Linked DNA regions of Homo sapiens: region 2 is linked to region 1. The links come from fine-mapping of genetic effects on gene expression. Tissue or cell type: whole blood. Region 1 holds a variant in brackets; the other region holds the start of a gene. All regions are shown on one strand. Distances are from middle to middle.

The links. PIP is the estimated chance that this variant, and not a neighbour inherited with it, causes the effect.
Region 2: FOXO1 starts here. The variant in region 1 is fine-mapped to the expression of FOXO1 in whole blood (INTERVAL, PIP above 0.99).

The regions. Positions count from the first base shown.
Region 1 is chr13:40,394,002-40,404,595 of GRCh38, forward strand. The region is part of intron 6 of LINC00598 (long intergenic non-protein coding RNA 598); the gene reads right to left. Among named protein-coding and RNA genes, the nearest start is that of LINC00598, 82 kb to the right of the region's middle. The variant G/A (reference allele first, on the strand shown) is at 5,885.
Region 2 is chr13:40,661,454-40,672,047 of GRCh38, forward strand. It overlaps FOXO1 (forkhead box O1), which reads right to left and starts at 5,188. Exons shown (of 3, transcript NM_002015.4): 1 at 4,130-5,188. The coding sequence starts at 4,759. RefSeq lists silencers at 2,927-3,006, 3,307-3,816, 4,337-4,386, 4,477-4,616, 4,847-5,376 and an enhancer at 6,027-6,076.

The sequences.
Region 1 (10,594 bases):
AAGTCTGAAGAGAAGCACTCAGTGATGTAGGGTACCAGGTCAGCGCCCAAGTAGCGCTGACAGAGGCAGGCACAAAACAAGATGCCTTTCCTTCCTCCATCTTCCACAGATGGAATCTCTTTGCTCTAACAGGGTTGTTGTGGGTCTGCCACATTATCCAGCTTTTACATTTACTTTTATTTGTGAGACTGAGTTGGTAGTGTCATTTTCCCACTCAGAATAAGAAAATTTGAAATTCCCACTCACAACCAAAACTTTTTGGCCGGGTATAGAGCAAGAAATCTGTACATCCATCAGCAACTCCATCCAGTCAGTCAGTGCATCAAATCAGGAGAGTAGTTGAAAAAGCCCCAATGAGATGATGAATTAATGCACTTTGCTGCTTCTTCCCCTGAACCAAATTCTGAGATACTCCGGGAGCAAAAAGAAATGTGGTGAACCCCAAAACCCAGTGTTACTGCTGTGAGACTCACCCGAGAACACAGAAGGTGGCTAGGTTGCTATGCAGACAAGGCATCCTAGGCTGGAGGAGGGCAAGGCCATCGATGAGCATAGAGCCATGGAGAGCTGTCAGTCTCTGCCCTTTTCTTTCCCCAACATGAACCTGGGAAGATAAGTATCTGCCCATCGTCTAAATGCAGCAATGCCAGCCCAGCCCAGTGCCTGCTGGAAATGAAGGGACACATTGGAGCAGCCCAAAACAGACTTAAGAAGGTCTCTGAGGAGCAAAGTCACCCTGTTACGGAAAAGGTACAAACAGAGAAAGGATCCCTAATACAGTTCCAAGGCAATATGATTCAGGAGGAAAAATGAGTCATTAAATAAGAACAACAGCTCATTTAACAATGTATGCCAGAGGGAGCAGATATCATGGACACAGAAAAAGAACCTAAAAGAAAAGAAGCCCCTATAGGCCTTTGGAGGCTGAGGCAGGAGGATTGCTTGAGGCTAGGAGTTTGAGACCAGCCTGGGCAACATAGGGAGACTCCATCTCTATAAAAAATAAAGAATATAACAGGAATTGTACAAATGTAAATGAGTTGAACTCACCAATCAGATTAGATTTTTTTTAGATTTTTTTTATTTATATAGCATTATGCATTTGCAGGGCACCCTTTTAATAATCATTAAAAATGTAATAAAGTTAATCAGAAAAATCTGAACCAAAAATAAGCCAACATAATTAATTGTCACACAAAGTTTTGTAAAAAAACATAATAATAACCAGAGGAATATTAAAAATTGGTAAAACACTCAAGAAGAATATGAAGATAAAATGAATGTATATGTACTTAACAACGTGGTCTCAAAACATAAACCAAGTCTGAAGAAAATGCAATAAAACAACTGTGGTTAGATTTTAATAAGCCCCTTTCAGGAACTGATGGAGCAAAGAGACAAATAAAAGTAGAGAAATATAAATAGTTGTTAAGCTCAAGTGTTAGGTATATACAGTTCTGCATGAAAGAAAGAAAACATTCTTTTAAAACAATCATGAAATATTCACCAAAATCTGCCATGTACAATCTCACAAAGGAACCTCAATAAATTTCCTAAAGTCATACACACTATGTTCTTTGAATATCATGAATAATTTATGCCAGAAAATTAGATAACCTAGCACAGTGGCCCCCAACCTTTTTGGCACCATGGAAGACAATTTTTCCATGAACCAGGGTTGGGGGGTGGTTTCAGGATGATTCAAGGGCATTACATTTATTGTGTACTTCATTTCTATTATGACTACATTGTAATATATAATGAAATAGTTATACAATTCACCATAATGTAGAACAAGTGGGAGCCCTGAGCTTGTTTTCCTGCAACTAGATGGTCTCATCTGGGGATGATGGGAGACAGTGACAGATCATCAGGCATTAGATTCTCATAAGGAGTGCCCAACCTAGATCCCTGGCATGCGCAGTTCACAATAGGGTTCACACTCCTAATCTAATGCTGCCACTGATCTGACAGGAGGCGGAGCTCAGGCAGTAAGGCAAGAGATGGGAGCAGCTGTAAATACCGATGAAACTTTACCCGCTCTCCCACCACTCACTTCCTGCTGTGTGGCCCAATTCCTAACAGGCGATAGTCCAGTATTGGTCCATGGCCCAGGGGTTGGGACCCCTGACCTAGAAGAAATGGGCAAATTATTTGAAACACACATATTACCTAAACTAACTCAAGAGCATAGAAAATCTCAGCAGACCCATAACAAGAAATTGAATCAATAATCAAAAAATTTTCCAACAACAAAAAAAATGTTCCACACCAGAAGGCTTACTGGTGAATTCTACTGAACATTTTTAAAAGAATTAACAGCAGTCTTTTTCGATCTATTCCAAAAGCTTGAAGAGGAAGAACACTCCCTAAGTCATTGTATATAAGGCCAGCATTACTCTAATACCAAAGTCAAAGACACTACAAGAAAAGAAAACTACAGACCAATAATCCTTTATGAATACAAATACAAAAGTCCTCAACGAATTAAAGAGAGTCTTCACTTAAGGTCATGGGTAAGTTATTGGAAACTGTGACTTTTAAGCAAAATGACATACAGCAAGTCCTTCAATAATGCTTCCTGTTCAACTTCATTGTATGTTAATTTTAATGAAAAAAAAAAAAAACACCTGTTTTTGTTTTAGGTCATTTTGCTTAAAGTCACAGTTTCCAAGGATGTGTTGATGATGTTGAGAAGTTACTGTACTAGCAAGCTGAGTTCAGCAGCGTGTTCAAAGAATTATACACAATGACTAAATGGGATTTATCCCAGGAATGGAAGGGTGGTCCAATATATAAAAAACTAACCAATAATAATTAATTATCAAAATCCCAATGGCATTTTTTGCAAAAATAGAAAAACTCATCCTAAAATTCATATGGAATTTCAAGGGACCCCAATTAGCTAAAAGTATGTTGAAAAAGAAGAACAAAGTTGAAGAACTCATACTTCTCAATATAAAAACTTGATTGACATAGCTACAGTAATCCAAACAATTTGGTACTAGCATAAGGATAGACATGTAGACCAATGGAGTAGAAATGAGATCCTAGAAATAAACTCCCACATCTATGGTCAACTTATTTTTGATCATCCAATGGGGAAAGAACAGATTCTTCAAAAAATGCTACTGCAAAAACTGGATATCCACATGCAAAAGAATAAAGCTGGATCCTTCCCTTACACCATATACAAACATTAACTGAAAATGGACCAAACACCTAAACATAAGAGCTAAAACTATAAAACTCTTAGAAAAAAAAACATAGGGACAAATTTTCATGGCCTTGGATTTGGCAGTGATTTCTTAAATATAGCACTAAAAGCACAGGTAACAAAAGAAAAAAAATGACAAACTGGATTTGATGAAAATTTAAAACTTCTATTCATCAAAGGACACTATCAACAGAATGAAAAGACAACCCACAGATGGGAGAAAATATTTACAAATCACATATTTAAAAGGTCTAATATCTAGAATATATAAAGAACTCCTATAACTCAACAACTAATAGACAACCCATTATAAAAAAAAAAAAAAAAAAGACTTGAGTAGACATCTCTCCAAAGAAGATATACAAATAGCCAGTAAGCACGTGAAAAGATCCTTAACACCATCAGTCATTAAGGAAATGCAAATCATAACCACAATGAGATACCACTTAATACCTACTAGGATGGCTATAATTGAAAACACACACAAACACACACACACACACACACAGAAAGAGAGAGAAAATAACATGTGGACAATAATGTGAAGAAATTGGAACCCTCCTACATTGCTGGTGGGAATGTAAAACTGTGTAGACATTGCAAAAAACAGTTGGCAATTCCTAAAAAAAAAAAAAAATGTAGAATTATCATGCGGCCCAGCAATTCACCTCTTAAATATATAACCCAAAAAACTGAAAATAGGAATTCAAACAAATATATGAACACCAGTGTTCAAGGCAACATTATTCACGGTAGCCCAAAGGTGGAAACAACCAAGGTATCCATCAGCAGATGAATAGATAAACAAAATGTGATATACACATACAATGGAGTATTATTTAATCATAAAAAGATATGAAGTTCTGATACATGCTACAACATGGATGAACCTTGTAAACATTACTCCAAGTGAAATAGGCCAGACAGAAAAGAACAAATATTGTATGATCCCACTTATATGAAATATCTACAATAAGCCAATACATAGAGACAGAAAGTATATTAGAGGTTACCTGGGGCCAAGGGAAAGCAAGAACAGAGGGTAATTGCTCAACAGGGGCAGAATTTCTGGTTGGGTGATGAAAAAGTTTTGATGATGGTTGCACAACATTTTGAATGTAAGTAATGCCACCGAATTGTACACATAAATGGTTAAGACGACAAATTTTGTTTTGTCTATTTTAGCACACACACACAAACACACCTTTAAATAACCAGGCAAATGAGAAGAAAATACTTATTAGGAAGCCAAGAAGTGGGAAAAAAGAAATAACTAGAAGAAATTCAGACAATGGAGTTGTCCGTCATTGAATTTAAAATAACTATGCTTAATATGTTTGCAGAAATTTTCTTGGCTCACTGCAACCTCCGCCTCCTGGGTTCAAGCAACTCTCATGCCTCAGCCTCCTGAGTAAATGGGACTACAGGTGCCCGCCACCGTACCCGGCTAATTTTTGTATTTTTAGTAGAGATGAACTGAAATATACCTGTAATGACATTAAATGCAAACCAATTAAACACTCCATTTGAAAGACTGAGAAATCAAGCCAAACTCAACTATATACTGCTGACAAAAGACCCACCTTAAATATAAAGAAATAGAAATGTTGAAGGTAAAAGGATGACAAAGATATATCATACAAATCCTAACCCAAAGAAAGCTGATGTAGCTATACTAATATTAGATAGTGTAGACTTTAAGGCAAGAAGCACTTCTAGAAATAGAGACACTTCATAAGTGTAAAAGCTTCTACCAAGAAGATACAGCAATTTTAAATTTCTAAGCACTTAACATCATAGACTCAAAACATATAAAACAAAAAGACAAAACTAAAAAAAGTAAAAATGCATAATCTTTGTGGGGGATTTTAATACATTAATATATTTAATATATTTCTCAAAGCAGACATAAAGTCAATAAAGATATAAAATATATGAACCACACAATTAAATAACTTAACCTAACTGAGATACACTAGTTACTACACCCCAAAATTAAATAATACGCAGTCTTTTGAAATTTGCTTGAAAAACTTACCAAAATAGATCCTAGTCCATGCCCTGGGAATATTTCAAAAGGCTGAAATCTTACAGTGTCTATTCTTTAATCAATGACAGAAAGGAATTAGAAAATCTGTGAATGCTTGGAAATTAAGCACCAAAAATGCTTGGAAATTAAGCACTACACATACACAGTCCAAACACTGTACAGCCTCCAAAAATATACATATCTAAGGACTCATACAATGAATTAGAGTGGGTGTCAGCGGACAGAGAATAGTAAATAAGGAAATAAAAAATAAATAAAATGTAACCAACAGACAGGCCATGCACAGCATGATAATTTTGGTGACTCATGACCCAAAAAGTATGTTGAATTCAACCCTGTACACCTGAGGTCAAAAATTAAATAAATAAATAATTTTATAAAGAATTAACTTCTAGAAATCAGAAAATCTAAATCCTAGCATATTCCAAATATACTGTCAAGTCAATGTCTTTGGGCTTCATGTTTGGCATCTACAGAGGATGAATACTAATATTAATGAATAGTCTTTGTATCTCACCCATCAATTCAACAAGCAGCCATTGAATATGTTATGTGGCAGACACTGCACCAGTTGGTGGGGACACAGTTCCAGCTCTCAAGCCTCTTATTCCTCAAGG[G/A]CACCGATGTCATACAAAGCAAAAGAAGGAAATTTTGTAATAACAACCACAAAGCAAAATTGCACAGAAGCCACGGGTTACACAACAAAGTTCCAGGTATTTGATAACTGATTTTGACCTGGCTGAGGAGGACCTACCTTTTTTTTTTTGAGACAGCGTCTCACCCTGTCACCCAGGTTGGAATGCAGTGGTGCAGTCATGACTCACTACAGCCTCCACCTCCCTGGGCTAAGTTGATCCTCCCACCTCAGCCTCCCAAGTAGCTGGGACTACAGGCACACACCACCGTGCCCGGCTAACTACAGGCACACAACACCATGCCAGACTAATTCTGTATTTTGTAACTTTTGTATTTTTGTTTCACCATGTTGCCTAGGCTGCTCTCAAACCCCTGGCCTCAGAAGATTCACCGGTCTTGGCCTCCCAAAGTGCTGGGATTACAGGCATGAGCCACCATGACCAGCCAGGACCTATCTTCTGATCCTGGGAATGCTATGCAACATGTGAGCTCCTTCAGGGCAGGGGCAAAGGATTTTCGATTCTGCAATTCCAATGTTTAGCCAAACAAGAGCGTATTACGTTTTTGTTGAATGAATGAATGAATGAATGAATGAAGAATGGATGTCAGTTTGAGCCAGTATTCCAAGTTCTATATTTCTACATCAAGATCCAGGTATAGAAAGAACTGGGGCCTGTGACTGGAGGCAGACTTTACTGCATCCACAAGCAGGTAAACATCATTTGGTGCTGAACTCGAGACAATGTCCAACCCCACACGCAGTCATAATTCCAGGACTTACATCAGAGCATTGGAGAATTTCATTATCTGTCGGCCAACTGTGAATCAAATGCACACAATGCTGAGAAAGAACCACCCATCGTAAAGCCTTAAAAAATAACCTGCTTTCCAATGCATATGCGGGAATAAATAAGCACCTACCAGAGTGCTTGCTGACAATATGAGCAGGAGGATACCCTCCCCATAAGGTTCTTGGAAGAATGACATGAAGTGTAAAAGGCCTGACAACTAGAGGTGCTCAATAAATATTTGCTACTAAATACACAGTGGGTATTCTGTAAATATGAGTTTTTCTTCTCCCTCCTTTCTCACACTCTCCCACCTTTCCAAGAGAGGCAGGTAACCATGAAATAGAGAAATACTTTGAGGAATTTTCCTGCACAATTCTAGCTATATTGAACTGAAGAAAAACATAGCCACTGTTGTAGCATGGAGAGGCCAGGGATACTGGGTGCCACAGGGGGATTCTGGAAGAAGGAGAGACTAGATTTGGGGAAAGAACCATCTGTCTCTGCAAAAGGCCCCAACTTTCCTTCAAAAACTTATTTTCTATTAGGCCTTTGCCCAAACTTAACAACAGATATTTATGTAAAACTGCCTATGTGCCAGGCACTCTTCTAAGTGCTTTACATAGAATCCTAACAACAGTCCAATGAAACAAGTACCATTATCATCCCCATTTTATAGATGCAGATGCTAAGAACTAGAAGGATGAAGAAGTCCAGAGAGTCTCAAAACTGCTTGGGATTTATATCAGTACCTCTAGGAAATGTGTTAAAATGTAAATTCACATCCTCCAGGATTAGGCAAAGTAACTAAGAAAAAAGAAAATTGAGGACTGACAAGAAGACCAAAGGTGGAACCCTGAGAAACAGCAGCTACATTTATGGGACAGATGGAGGAAGAATTGACCTCAGGGTGTGGTGTGAGAAGGTAGCAGGAGAGCCAAGGCAGGGTGCTGTCTTGGCCATTCAGGGAAGGGTGTTCAAATAATGAGGTCACGTCAACCATTTCAGGAAGGTATTGGGAAGTGTTTGCTGGGATTGGCAATTAGCAGGTCACTTACAACTTTGTTGAGAAGAGTTTTAGTGTCGTGCTGGGGAAAGAATAATGGTCTCATCCTCAAATACCTTGTAAGACCCTTGAAGGAATCTCTCTCTCTCTCTCTCTCTCTCTCTCTCTGCGTCTGTTATCTTTGACCAGGCTTATACACAGTAAGTGCTCATTTTGCTGATTTTGCCATTGCTGACAAAGATAATGACATTCTACTATTGCTGTTATGAAGTCAAGAGCAAAAGATGGTGTGTATGTGAGTTGAGATTTCGAAAATATGGGTGCAGGAGGCAATTACCCCTCAATTTCAGTTAGGTAGGAAAGGGGGCAGGCAGACAGAGCTTCCTGCATTGCAGAGAGAGATGACCACAGGATGCCCCATAGACAGAGACCAACTCTACTCAGCCAGAGAGAGAAACTGCAGTTCTCCGATAGTAAATGCAGTTGTCCCCTCTTATGGAGACTCAGCTGCCAAAAACTTAGGTGAAGGTTCAAGGTCACTGTGAACCCAGGGCCACCCTGAAATGCTGTCCATTTGTCTGCCTCTAGTCCTTTTTCGGCTTCTAAAGTCCAATCATTCTTTGCCCTTATAACCACTCTGGTGTGTCTTGGAGAGAAAACACAGTTCTTCACGGTTTGCCAGTAGTCGAGGGAGGAATCTGAAAGCTGACTGTTTCTCCCACAGCTTCAGGAGCATTAAAACTTCAAAAGAGGAACTATTTATGCTGTCATTACCACAGCGGTCACTTCTGCAGGATTTCTTTCTCTGATGCAGCACTGGTTGGACACACTTGGCCCAGGGCCGAGAGGGGAGAGGAGGGCGTTACAGAGACACTGAGTCATCCTGCCTCCTCCACGCCCTCCGCAGCTGCCCCTCACTGCACTTCCTCCTCCTCCTCAAGTTAAAGGTCAGCCTCTCATGCTCGTGCCAAGTTTTGCGAAACACACATACGCCAAAAAAAAAAAAAAAAAAAAAGGCTTCAGAAAGGGTAAATTTTTTAACATGAAAAGAAATAAGGAAAGCCTCCTTCAAAAATACATGCAAAAATAAGTAATCCTTCCCCCATACTACTTAATAACTCCAGAATGATAAAAATTTTCCAATTGTGAATATGTAAGGAATAAAATAAAAGGAATGAATGCCCCACTGTGTTAATGCAGCCCTTTTTAAAATGATCCTAATTTCTTCCAGAAGGCTCTGGAGGGTAGATTGCAAGGTTTGTCTTAATATAGAATTATTCCCTTCTCTCCGCTTGTCTTTAGAACCAGTGTGAACATGGTGATATTTTACAGTTGGCAACCTGTACTTCGCTGCTCAAAAATGCTGCATTCCAAGGGCTACAATCATGCATTGTGCATTTGAAATGCCTGTTGCTAAGAACAAATATCAACCCCAGGACGACCCCACTCAGCAGATCGGCCAACTCCCGCACAGAGCTGTTTCCCGACCTCTGGTCAGAGACAGGAAGCCCATTGGACCCTAGGCCCAGGCAAGTGCGGAGGGTTCCCAGGCAGGTGACATGGTAAAATGTAGACGACTAGCTCTCTGTCTGTCTTCAGGATAACGTCTGCCTCCCACCCTTCCTGGTCCCAGCTTAGGAATGTATGCAGCCCTTTTATGTGCATTGCCAGGAGGCTTGTGAAGTAGATTGGACAGAGGTTTTACAGCATTGTTCCTATTTAACTGATCAAGGACTGAACCTTGTAGTTTAACAACATGAAGTTGTACGGGAACAACTAAGCAGTTGCTGGACTAAAACCCTCAGCTTCCGAATCGCAGCCCCATTAAACTCACTTCCAGCCCCGTTGTACCCTCTTTCCCCATGAGGCCGCCCCAGTGGTGCTGAAAACAGGGACTGACCTGGTTGCAACGGGAGCCTGGGGTCCTGTTCTTTGCATGTTCCCACACTGCCCTTAAAGGCTGACTGCCCCGTGGGCACTGTACATCTGCAGATCACTCGCTTTCGACATTCAGAGACCTCCATCTCATGGCAGGGTTGCCCGTGTCCACACCTCGCACTTCTCCCATGCCACTTACAGCCTGTTTCAGATTAGTTTTAACAATTGTTTTCTGGAGATTTTCCAAACTTTCCTCAGCCAAACAATCAGGGAAAGGGATAGGCCTGGCGCCGTGCAGAGGAATGGAGCCCTTCCCGCCCTGGAGCCACCTCCAACAGAGGCAACTCCGTGTACGGTGAACATTACCCTAACTGGTGAAAGTGATGATGTTCAATTATGTTGTATGTTATGTGCTTTTGTTTTTTGCACTTCTCTGTAAATGTCCTTCTTCCTAGTGAGTGGAGGGGTGTTGGGGGCGGAGTACTAGGATGTGAAAGTAAACACCAAGAGAAAGGTACAGGTTCAACGTGAGCATCTACAATAGGATTATCAAACCTGCAGAAAGGCTTTGTTAGGAGAGAAAGGGGTTTCCTCAATCCCTCTTTCTACCTTTCTTTAACATTTCAGAAGGCAAGTCTGGCAAACCTGCTCCCGGAGTTCTACCTGAGAGACATCTCACCCATTCTCCTGATGAATGGAGAGAAGAAGGAAGACAAAGAGAGAGGGAGAAATTTGGGGACAAGGAATGTGATCCCCACCCCCTAAGTCCCACATCTCTCAAAGGGGGTCTCAGGGGCTTTACAGGCACTGGGTTAGGTATGGGGAGCCCAAACCATCGGCTGAGCGCATGCTGCTGGGACCTTCCAGGGCAGTCTGCCATTTGCAACATGAAGCAGGAACAGTGGTGCCCAGGAGGCATGGGATGCGACGAGATGGATCATTGGAGGACATGGCCTGGGTCTCCATGGCTGGTGGACTGCAGGTCAGGGCCCAGAAGTTCCCCATGCCTCTGTGAATAC
Region 2 (10,594 bases), 270 kb after region 1:
ACCCGGCTAATTTTTTGTATTTTAGTAGAGATGAGGTTTCACCATGTTGCCCAGGGTGGTCTTGAACTCCTGAGCTCAGGCAATCCGCCCACCTTAGCCTCCCAAAGTGCTGGGATTACAGGTGTGCGCCACCACGCCCAGCCTATCAAGGCTTTCTTTAAGGTAATTTCAGTGACAATCCAGAAGTAGGAAAGATGTCTCAGATCCTCTAACCACTCGGTCTCACCAGGATTCTCTAAGTCAAATGTGACCATGCAACAAAAAAGCAGCCATCTTTCTAACGGGATCTCTGTGGCTGGTTCAATTACTCACCTATAGATTATACCCAAATTACAGAATATTTATTTCAAAACATAAGGAAATCCACTGTCAGTTCATAGGCCAAATAAGAAACATCACTCCCAATTAAAGATTTATCTTAAAAATAAAAAGCTTTGGGGCCAGGCACGGTGGCTTACGCATGTAATCTCTGCACTTTAGGAGATCAAGGCAGGCAGATCACGAGGTCAGGAGTTCGAGGCCAGCCAAGCCAATATGTGAAACCCCCTCTCTACTAAAAATACAAAAATTAGCCAAGCATGGTGGCACGTGCCAGTAGTCCCAGCTACTCGGGAGGCTGAGGCAGAAGAATTGCTTGAACCTGGGAGGCGGAGGTTGCAGCAAGCCGAGATTGCGCCACTGCACTCCAGCCTGGGCAACAGAGTGAGACTCTGACTCAAAAAAAAAAAAAAAAAAAAAAAAAAGATATTTATCTTTAAATCAAAGAGGATACCTCTAATAAAACAATCTAAAAATTTATTTAACAAGAGTTAAGTGGTATAGTCAAAGTCATTCTTTTAACCTAAAGTGTTCCTAATAATATCAAAAGAGTCAACTCAAAACTGCCATTTATTAAAAAAAATCAGAGTTCAAACTACCACTTCCCAAGCTTTAGAAGGCTTTCTATGTGAAAAAACAGGTCATGGAAATGAAGTTTCATTATTTATAAATACTGCACTAGATTTAGAAGATCCCGGGTTTTCCAAAAGTCTTAGGTTCCACTTTGTGTGTGACCTTATAGCAATTCTAGCCAATATTACAACAAGTGTAAGACATTTAACATACCATCCCCACAAACACAAAATGCATATCCTTCAAATATAACCAGCACTTAACTATCTAAAGAATGACATTAAAAGTTTTTGAATTCATTAACAGTTTTCCAACTAGTTTGTCCTATGCAAATGACTCAAACTTTCAGGCAGGCCCCAGGAAGCAGCACACAAGAAACTATTTAATTAAAGATTCAGCCTAATTCCCAGTAGTAAATCACAGGAAATATTTTGTGCCAAAGCAACCTCTCCTCGGTCCTAAAACAGTTAAGTTTTGGTTGCTTTGCATTTAAAAACTGGATTTAAGTTAAAATTCATAGTAAAATTTCTCTTTTATGACTCTTAGAACAGGAGTCTTTCAGATCTGAGAGTGAAACTTGGTTTTAACAAGTAACTCATTTTTATGAAACTAACCAAAAGACTAGTTATGAGTTAGAACAGCTCAGGTTGTTTCTTTTCTTCTTAAAATACCCTTTTACTCAAACTGAAAATGTACTTGCTGCAATCAGACTTAAACCAACTGACATTACACCTGAAACACTTACTCATTTGAGAAAGGCAGCCTACTCCAAAGCAAAGCCCCATTAGGCTCCCACTGGGAGCTGCCCAAGGGCCTCCAATTCCAGACAGATAACTTAACAGGTCTCCTAGCTCTGGCAAATAAATTTAAAAAAAAACTAAATTATTCTTGCATTTTTAAAAAAATCAGAACAAGAACCTGATAAAAATGGTTGTAAAGATGATTTAACATCAGAATCTATTTTTTAAAAACCTAAATCTTAAAAAGTGTAAGCATATTCCTAGTTTAAGACTAACACTCTGACAATGCCATTTGAGACGCAAAACTAAAAATATCCCAAAACACTTCCTTTATCTTTAAAGAAAGGCACTCCAGCAAGTTGAAGTAGGTTGTATCCATTTCCAAGGACTAAAGAATGGTGTAAGTACACACTGTACTTTGAATGCAAAAAAAGGGGGGAGGATTTTTTTTTTAAATGGCTAATACTCTGTAACAGCTGAAGTGGAATTGATAGATGAGCAAGTAAGTCAAGTACTTAAATTCAAATGTTAAGTAAAACAAGATTTGGCAGACAATTTCGATTTTGTGACTTAATAGAATATATGCTGAACTTAACGGTAAGAAGGCACTTTACTTTTTTGAAACACTTGGTAAAATTGCATGTAATGCCTGGTAATGAAGCGATAAGTGATACCTTTACTCTAAAACACACTTTGGAAAAAATAAAATGAATCTTGAATTCCTTCTAAAGGAACTTCAATAAGGTGTGAGTAACTTAACCCTTTTGACACGCATTAACCACAGGGATGACACTGTGTGTAAAATAACCTTGGTGTTAACAACTGCGCAGCAAAGACCAATCTTTATTATGCCGTGGAGTCCAATATGAGAGGCGAAGAAAGGTATGTTTTAAAAAGGTGTTTAGCTCGGCCGGGAACGGTGGCTCACGCCTGTAATCCCAGCACTTTGGGAGGCCGAGGCGGGCCGATCACGAGGTCAGGAGATCCAGAACATCCTGGCCAACATGGTGAAACCCGGTCTCTACTAAAAACACAAAAATTAGCTCGACGTGGTGGCTCGTGCCTGTAATCCCAGCTACTCGGGAGGCTGAGACAGGAGAATCGCTTGAACCAGAGAGTCGGAGGTTGCAGTGAGCCGAGATCGCGCCACGGTACTCCAGCCTGGCGACAGAGCGAGACTCCGTCTCGGAGGAGGGGAGGGAGGTGTTTAGCTCAACTAGACAGCCTTTACAGCAATTCCGCCACCGGTGACAGTGAGAAACTGTCAGCTTGGGGAGGCCGCGCCACGACTGGACCCCGCCCCCGGGAAGCCTCCCCGGAGCCGAGGGCCCCCGGGCCTTCTCCTCGGAGTCGGGAAGTGCCTGCCCCCACGCTAAGTCTCTCCTGGCCACGCTCTGAAAGGCAAAAATGGCAAAAATCCTCCTTCAAGGCACCGCTCCCTCGACGCGCACCGCCACTCCGACTCCCTCAAAACATTGGTCGCAAAGCCCCCCCGCCTGGTCCTCCATGCTCAAGAATAGGGTGGCAAGGCAGGAAAAGACTCACACATCCCAGCCCCCGGCCCCTCAGGGCAGCCTCTGTGTTTCTAACTAAAAGCCTCCTACCAGGGGCAAGACCAAGTTCGGGCGCTTCCCCGCATGGAGAAACGCTGGCCCCACGGCGCCCGGCCCCGACGCGCTGGCCCTTTAAAGGCGCGGGCTTCCTGCGCCCGGGGCCCCTCCCACGCCACCGCCACCGCCACCGCCACCGCCCGCGCCCGCCCCCGCCGAGGGTCACACTTGAACTTTAGCTCGCCCCGCGCGGCCAGGCGCCGGCGCTCCGCAGGCGGTGGCCGCCCCTTCGCACGTGTCGGAGGCACCACCTCGGGCTCGGGACGCCGGGCCCCCGGCACTCGAGGCCACTCCGGAGAAAACCAAAACAAAGCAAAATGCGCACCGCCTCCAGAAACTGCCCGGCAGGCCCTGCACCGTCCCCGGCCGGTCGCGCCCTGCCTGTCCCCTCCACCTGCAGCCCGGTCCCGGGGCAGCGAGGCTCCGGGGCCCCTCGCCGCGCCCTCCCCCGCCGCGCCCGGCGGAAACAGCTCCGCGGCGCGGCCGGAGAGAACCCGCCCTCCCCCCGCGGAGGTCCGGGAGGGAAGGGGCAGCCGAAGCAGTCGGCGCGGGCCGGGGGTTGCCGCTCCCAGCGAACCCCTTTCTCCTTTCACTGGCAAACTTTTCGGCCTCGCTCTGACGTCCACTTCTTGGCGCACTTTCTTTACTTAGTTCCCCAACGAGCCCCTTACCGCGTCCCACGCGAACTCCTGACTGGCGCGCACGCACACCTACTGCCGTCCCCGACCGGACCCGGGCGAGGCCACCGCGACCACCGCTTCTCGCCCGCCCTCCTGGGAACGCGCTGCCCTCCTGCTCCGCACCTTCAGGCCGAGCAAACCTGCACAGCTGCGCCCTCGCCTGACCCACCGCGCCCCCAAGGTCCGGCCGCGCGCCGAGTCCACTCACCTTCCAGCCCGCCGAGCTGTTGCTGTCACCCTTATCCTTGAAGTAGGGCACGCTCTTGACCATCCACTCGTAGATCTGCGACAGCGTGAGCCGCTTCTCCGCCGAGCTCTCGATGGCCTTGGTGATGAGGTCGGCGTAGGACAGGTTGCCCCACGCGTTGCGGCGGGACGAGCTGCTCTTGCGCGGCTGCCCCGCGAGCGGCCCAGCGGCGGCGGGGGGCACCGGCGGGTGCTGCGACAGCGGCCCGGGCGGCGGGGGCTGCGGTGGCGCTGGGTGCAGGCAGCCCGCCTCCGGGCCCTGGAAGTCCCCGCACAGCCCCCCGGTGGCGGCCGCGGCGGCCGCCGCCGCCACCGCCGCCGCCACGGAGCCGGGCGCCTGCGGGAAGTCCTCGCTCTCCTCCAGCAAGCTCAGGTTGCTCATGAAGTCGGCGCTGACAGCGGCAGCCGAGGCCGAGGGCAGGCCCGCCGCGGCGTCGGGGTTGGCAGCCGCGCTGCCCGACGGCGCCGGGCTGGAGGTGGCCGAGTTGGACTGGCTAAACTCCGGCCTGGGCAGCGGCCAGGTGCACGAGCGCGGCCGGGGCAGCGGCTCGAAGTCCGGGTCGATCTCCACCACCTGAGGCGCCTCGGCCATGGTGACCCCCGCCCCTCCCCCAGCCGCAGGAGAGCCAAGAGGGGGAGAACGCAGCACTGGGGGCGGACGGGGAGGGGGCGCGAAGGGACGGTCCGAGATTTGGGGGAACGAAGCCGGTGCGGCGAGCGGACGGAAACTGGGAGGAAGGCGCGGCGGAGTGGAAGCGCGAGCCCAGAACTTAACTTCGCGGGGCCATCCACATCGAGGCTCCTCGGGGTCCGCCGCACGGACTGGACGGCCGGCCAGAGCCGCCGGGCCGGGGCAGAGCCTGCGCCGCGCTCCAGCTGACAGGGCCGCGGACGGAAGGACGGACGGACGCCGCGGGCCGCTTGCTCTCCCCAGCGGCGCGCCCGCTGCGCTGCTGCCTGTTGAATGTGGCGGCTGCGGCAGCGGCTGCTGCGACTACCAGGCCGCCCGACTTACGGGATCTGCCGCCGCCCCCCGCCCGCGGCGGCGCGCGCGCCGGCCCGCCCCTGACCGACAGCCCGCGCGGCCAATGGGCATGCGGCACCGCCGCCCGGGCAGCCAGTGGGCGCCGGGCTGGGTGGGGCCCGGTTTTCCACGGGGAGGCGGCGGTGGGCTGGTGGGGGGTAGTGGGGTGTTTTTCTCTTTCACACACTCACCTCCTTTTTTTTTTTTTGGATCTCTATTATTTTCTGGTAATTCTCGAGTGTTTCTGTGATTCTCTCGCCTTCTCAGTGTTTTGATTGCTAGGAAGCAAACCAGCGTGGAGGCGCCGGCGACACTTTGTTTACTACGGAGCAGCAGAGCCGAGTACTCGGGAAGCCCGGGTGGGAGGAGGCGCTCGCTGCTCCCTGACCTCCGCTGCGGGCCGAGCCCGGCGGGCTGGCAGGGCAGGGGGCCGAGGGCCGGGGGCGCGGGGTGGGCGGGCGGAGGCGGCCGCGAGGAATTCTACTCAATCGCTCCCTCCTGGCTCCACCCACGATGTCTTTGCTGAACGACGTGGGGAATCGGTGGGTTTTGTTTTGGTTTAATGTTTTCTTTCGCTGCGATCTGTCAAGTCCTCCGGCCCCCTCGCGAGCGGCACACGCCCCCCACCCCCGGCGCCGCGGCTCCTGCAGTCGAGTCCGCGCCGAGGGACCCTTCTCCGTGCCCACCGGTCCGCACCCCCGGGCTCAGCCTGTGCCATTCGGTCTAGCCAGAGGCGCGTCACCCAGCCGGCAGCCCCCAGCCGGATTCACTGTATTCTTGACCTTTTTTAAAATGCTAGAAATGAGGAACAGGGGCTCCGGCGCGGGGAGGAGATTATCTGGCCTCCCTGAACACACGAATCCAAAGGCACCCGCGACCGCATGCCCTCCGTGGGAACCTCTTCCCCTGGGCGGGAATCTCCCGCTCCGTCCACTAAGTCCAGGGCCGGCAGCGAAGGGCTCAGGAGCGCAGTTAGAGAGAACCAGGTCATTTTATTACTTATCCCTAATTAAATTTAGCTGTTTGTTACTTCTTTTTTATTTGCAACGGAAGTGATCGGGTGTTAAGTAAAAACGCAAGGGGGGCGGGAGATAGGACCAAAGCCTTGGGGCGCAGCCTGCCCCACCCCCAAATTCCTTGAGGCTACTTGCTGTGTGTGTCAGTCAACCCCCCACCCACACCCCACCTTTCCTCATCTGGGCTGCAGGTCCAGGACATCCTGTCAAGGATCAGTGGGGCCAAAGGTGGGAAGATAATGGCCCTTGTGTCTCAAGCAGAAGAAACAGTTTTCCAGTTTTGTTTTGTTATGCTTTTGCTTTTTTAGGAAGAATATGGAAGGCATTTCCTTTTAGAAAGATGGGACCACTTAGGATGGAAGATGGACAGTAGGGTTTTAAATATCTTGTCCAAAAGGACAGCTTCCAACTCTTGTTTTTTAATCCCTTTCTTTCTTACAAGTAATTCTGCAATGGAAAAAGTGGCATCTAGAGAAAATTAGTCAGTTGGACAAGAGGTTGTTGAAAAAATAAAAGAGAAAAGAGGGGAAAAAAGGAAAAATTAGGCCTCTTACAAAAGTTAAAAAGATTGAGAGAGATTATCTTTCTTCTTTTATATTCTCACTATCGTCTCTCTAGTCCGGGCTCCTGTTTCTTCATAATCTATTTATCACAACAGCTTCTTGCTGATACTAGGCATGGGTGGGGTGGGGAGCGTGAGCCGGATGGATTGGGGACGGGCGGGGACTGGTTCCCACCCTGGTCTTGTGGTCTCTTCACGTTTACTATCAAATTTGGACAGTCTGGGCCTCCTCTGACAGCCGCTAGGGGACCTCAGTAACTCAGATGATGAGCTCAAAGGCAGGCCCCCAAAGTACAGCTGTTGCTTCCCCCCACCTTTCCAATTACACTCTGCAGAAGCAGCCCCCGATCCAGACAGCCGCACCCTAAAAATAGGCGGTGCCCTACTGGATCATTCTTGGCAAAGGAAGCCAGCTTCAAATTTGGCCTTGCCTTCATTTCTATTCCGGTTTTTCAGGGCGTCAGAGAATATTTATTTGGTTAAAGGAGTCTTCCTACAGACTTTCCCCAAATCCTTGAAATCTTTGAGGCTCTCCTGCCCAATTGTTTCTTCAAATGTCATAGTTTACTTTTATTTGGTCTTTCTTTAAAAAAATTGACGAGGCAGGCACAGAGAACCTATAACACCAATGTCCCTGACACATAGGTCCAAAAAATTAAAAATATATATTGAAGGGTTTTTACAGCTAACCACCACACTGTTGTATCTAAATATCAATTTACTGAACCCCAGGATGTTGGTGAATATTTCACTTGTTTCCAGTCTTTAGCTATCATAGACTATTCTGTAAGAAATAACCTTGCAGGGAGGCCGAGGCGGGCGGATCATGAGGTCAGGAGATAGAGACCATCCTGGCTAACACGGTGAAACCCGTCTCTACTAAAAATACAAAAAATTAGCCGGGCGTGGTGGCGGTCGCCTGTAGTCCCAGCTACTCAGGAGGCTGAGGCAGGAGAATGGCGTGAACCCGGGAAGCGGAGCCAAGATCGCCCCACTGCACTCCAGCCTGAGCAACAGAGCGAGACTCCGTCTCAAAAGAAAAAAAAAAAAGAAATAACCTTGCATAACTTTAATTTCATATCTGTACAAGTATATATATAGGAGCAATTTCCAGAAATGGGAGTCACTGGGTCAGCAGGTATACCCATTCGTAGTTTTGAAAGGCACAGCCAAATTGTGCTCCACAAGGGTTATATCAAGCTAAACTGTCTTTTCCATTAGACCCACAGAACGTTAAACTTGAAAGTAAACTCGGAGATCACCTTGGTGACCCCCTTTAACTTAGAAAAAGAGAGGTGCAGAGATGCTGATTTGCCCCAGCGCACATAATAAAAGTGGTGATGCCAGGGCTGTAGCTCTAATTTTTTGCTTTCCCATTAGTAACCTTCTCAAAACACAGATGGAAAATTATAAATATCCTGTAATCCCACTATAGCAATAACCATTATAACTTCGTAGTGTATTTCCTTCCAGTCAACCCGCAGATCTTAGTAATCATAGTTAGGTGAACTCCACTGAACCAAATAAAGGTTTGAATTAAAAGAACAAATAGGCCGGGCACAGTGGCTCATGCCTGTAACTCCAACAGCTTGGGAGGCCGAGGCAGGTGGATCACCTGGGGTCAGGAGTTCCAGACCAGCCTGGCCAACATGGTGAAACCCCATCTCTACTAAAAATACAAAAATTAGCTGGGCGTGGTAGCAGGTGCCTGTAATCCCAGCTACTCAGGAGGCTGAGGCAGAAGAATCCCTTGTACCCCGGAGGTGGAGGTTTCAGTGAGTCGAGATCACACCACTGCTCCAGCCTAGGCGACAGAATGAGACTGTATCTCAAAAAAATTTAAAAATTAAAAAAAAATAAAATAAAATAAAAGATCAAGAAAACAGACATAAAACAATGATAGTGGTAATAAGATAATGAAAGAAGAGATTACAAAAGAAGTTTTTCTGTTTTTTTTTTTTGTTTTTTTTTTAGTCAAAAATGTAAATGTTGCCATCTCTGAAGGGTGACATAGTATTTAGGTCATCCCTGGTTCTGCTTAAGGGAAAAAGTTCTTTTCTCCTTCCTTGTGTTTTGTGGTTGCAGCTTGCTTTGAAGGTATTTTCTACTGATTATCACTTAGTTGCTGCATGTGTCTGAACTGGGAAGAAATAGGGAAGAAAAATGTCTCATGTCAAGTAAGGACAATTAAAATGAAAAAGGAAATTTATCCTTACAAAGTCCATCTCACAAAACTATGTGATGTTCTTTTCTGTGCCTGGTTTTCAGGGTAACTATTGCCTCATCCTTAACAGGAAGACTGAGGGATGGTTCCCTTTGATCAATGCCCAGGCAGAAATTTCTACATTTACCCCTCACCAACACATGATAGATCTCGGGTTTAAATTTAAATTTTTACTTGTCAAAATAGATAATTTAAGTTCCATTTAATGAGTAAGTGAAAAACTTGGATGCTGATTTTTCAGTCAGGGCACTTCACTTCGTATTTCACATTCCCTTTCCCCAACAACTGTCCGTTTCCAAAACTTTGTCTGAATTATTAGGAGGTACTGCTGTCAACCTGAAACAGCCTTTCTTCACTTAGCCCATAGAAAGTAATAATCTGAAAAAAATATATATAGCCTCAGGTCTTTAAACCAATGTCCTGAAGGCTGGCATATTAACTGGTAGCTGTAGTAAGATTAGAAGTAACCATTCGTTTCTCTTAAGGGATAATTTCCTTGGGGTTTTGTCACTAATTCCACAAATATCTACAGAGCACCTCCTACATATATGTCAGGTGCTGTGCATCTTAGAGTCCATTGTTTTGATGCTAAATTCCTTGAGCTCCAAAATGGTTTATTTTCCCTGATACGATATTTGCTATCAGAGTTAAGAACGCTGTTCTTTTCTAATCAGCAATGCATAGTGACAATATTTATTTGGAGGAATTACACAAAAATGTTTTTGATAGGTAAAAGAAATGCTAAGGCTGGAAAAATTGAAATATAGTCACCATTTTGGAGGAAAATAATGATATGAAGTGGAAAAGATTTAAAAATGCACCATCCACAGGCACTGGGAGTATGAGTTCCGACCACTAAGCCTCATGGTTGGGATGATCTTATTACAAATGGACAAAAGACGGAGACTACCTCTGGTTATCTGTCTACTAACCTGTAACAGAAGGGAAGCAGTGAACCACTTCTTTTGTCAATTCTGTTGTGAAGGGCCAGTGTTTGTCAACTTCAATAAACTATTCCTTCACTTTAGGTATTAGTGAGAGACTACTTGTGGGTCTCTGCAGGAATACTAACACATATTTGTAGATAACCTAAATGACCAACTATAGAGAATGGTTAAATAAATAATGGCATATCTATAAGGTGGCATTTCACACAGCCATTTAAAATAAAATCTTTGGGCCGGGCATAGTGGCCCACACCTGTAATCTCAGCACTTTGGGAGGCTGAGGCAGGCAGATCACTTGAAGTCAGGAGTTCCAGACCAGCCTGGCCAACGTGGTGAAACCCTGAAACCCTGTTCTACTCAAAATACAAAAATTAGCCAGGCACGGTGGCGCAAGCCTGTAGTCCCAGTTACTAGAGAGGCTGAGGTGGGAGGATCACTTGAACCCAGGAGACAGAGGTTGCAGTGAGCTGAGATCATGCCACTGCACTCCAGCTTGGACGACAATAAAATAAAATAGCTTTCCCAAGCCAAAAGGGGATTCACATTAGAATTAAAATTCTTTCTAACATTGAGAACTCATATAATTGCCATAAAATTAATGATGGTACATGAAATTCCAAATTCTCTGAATGTCACAAATCTGAATCTTACATT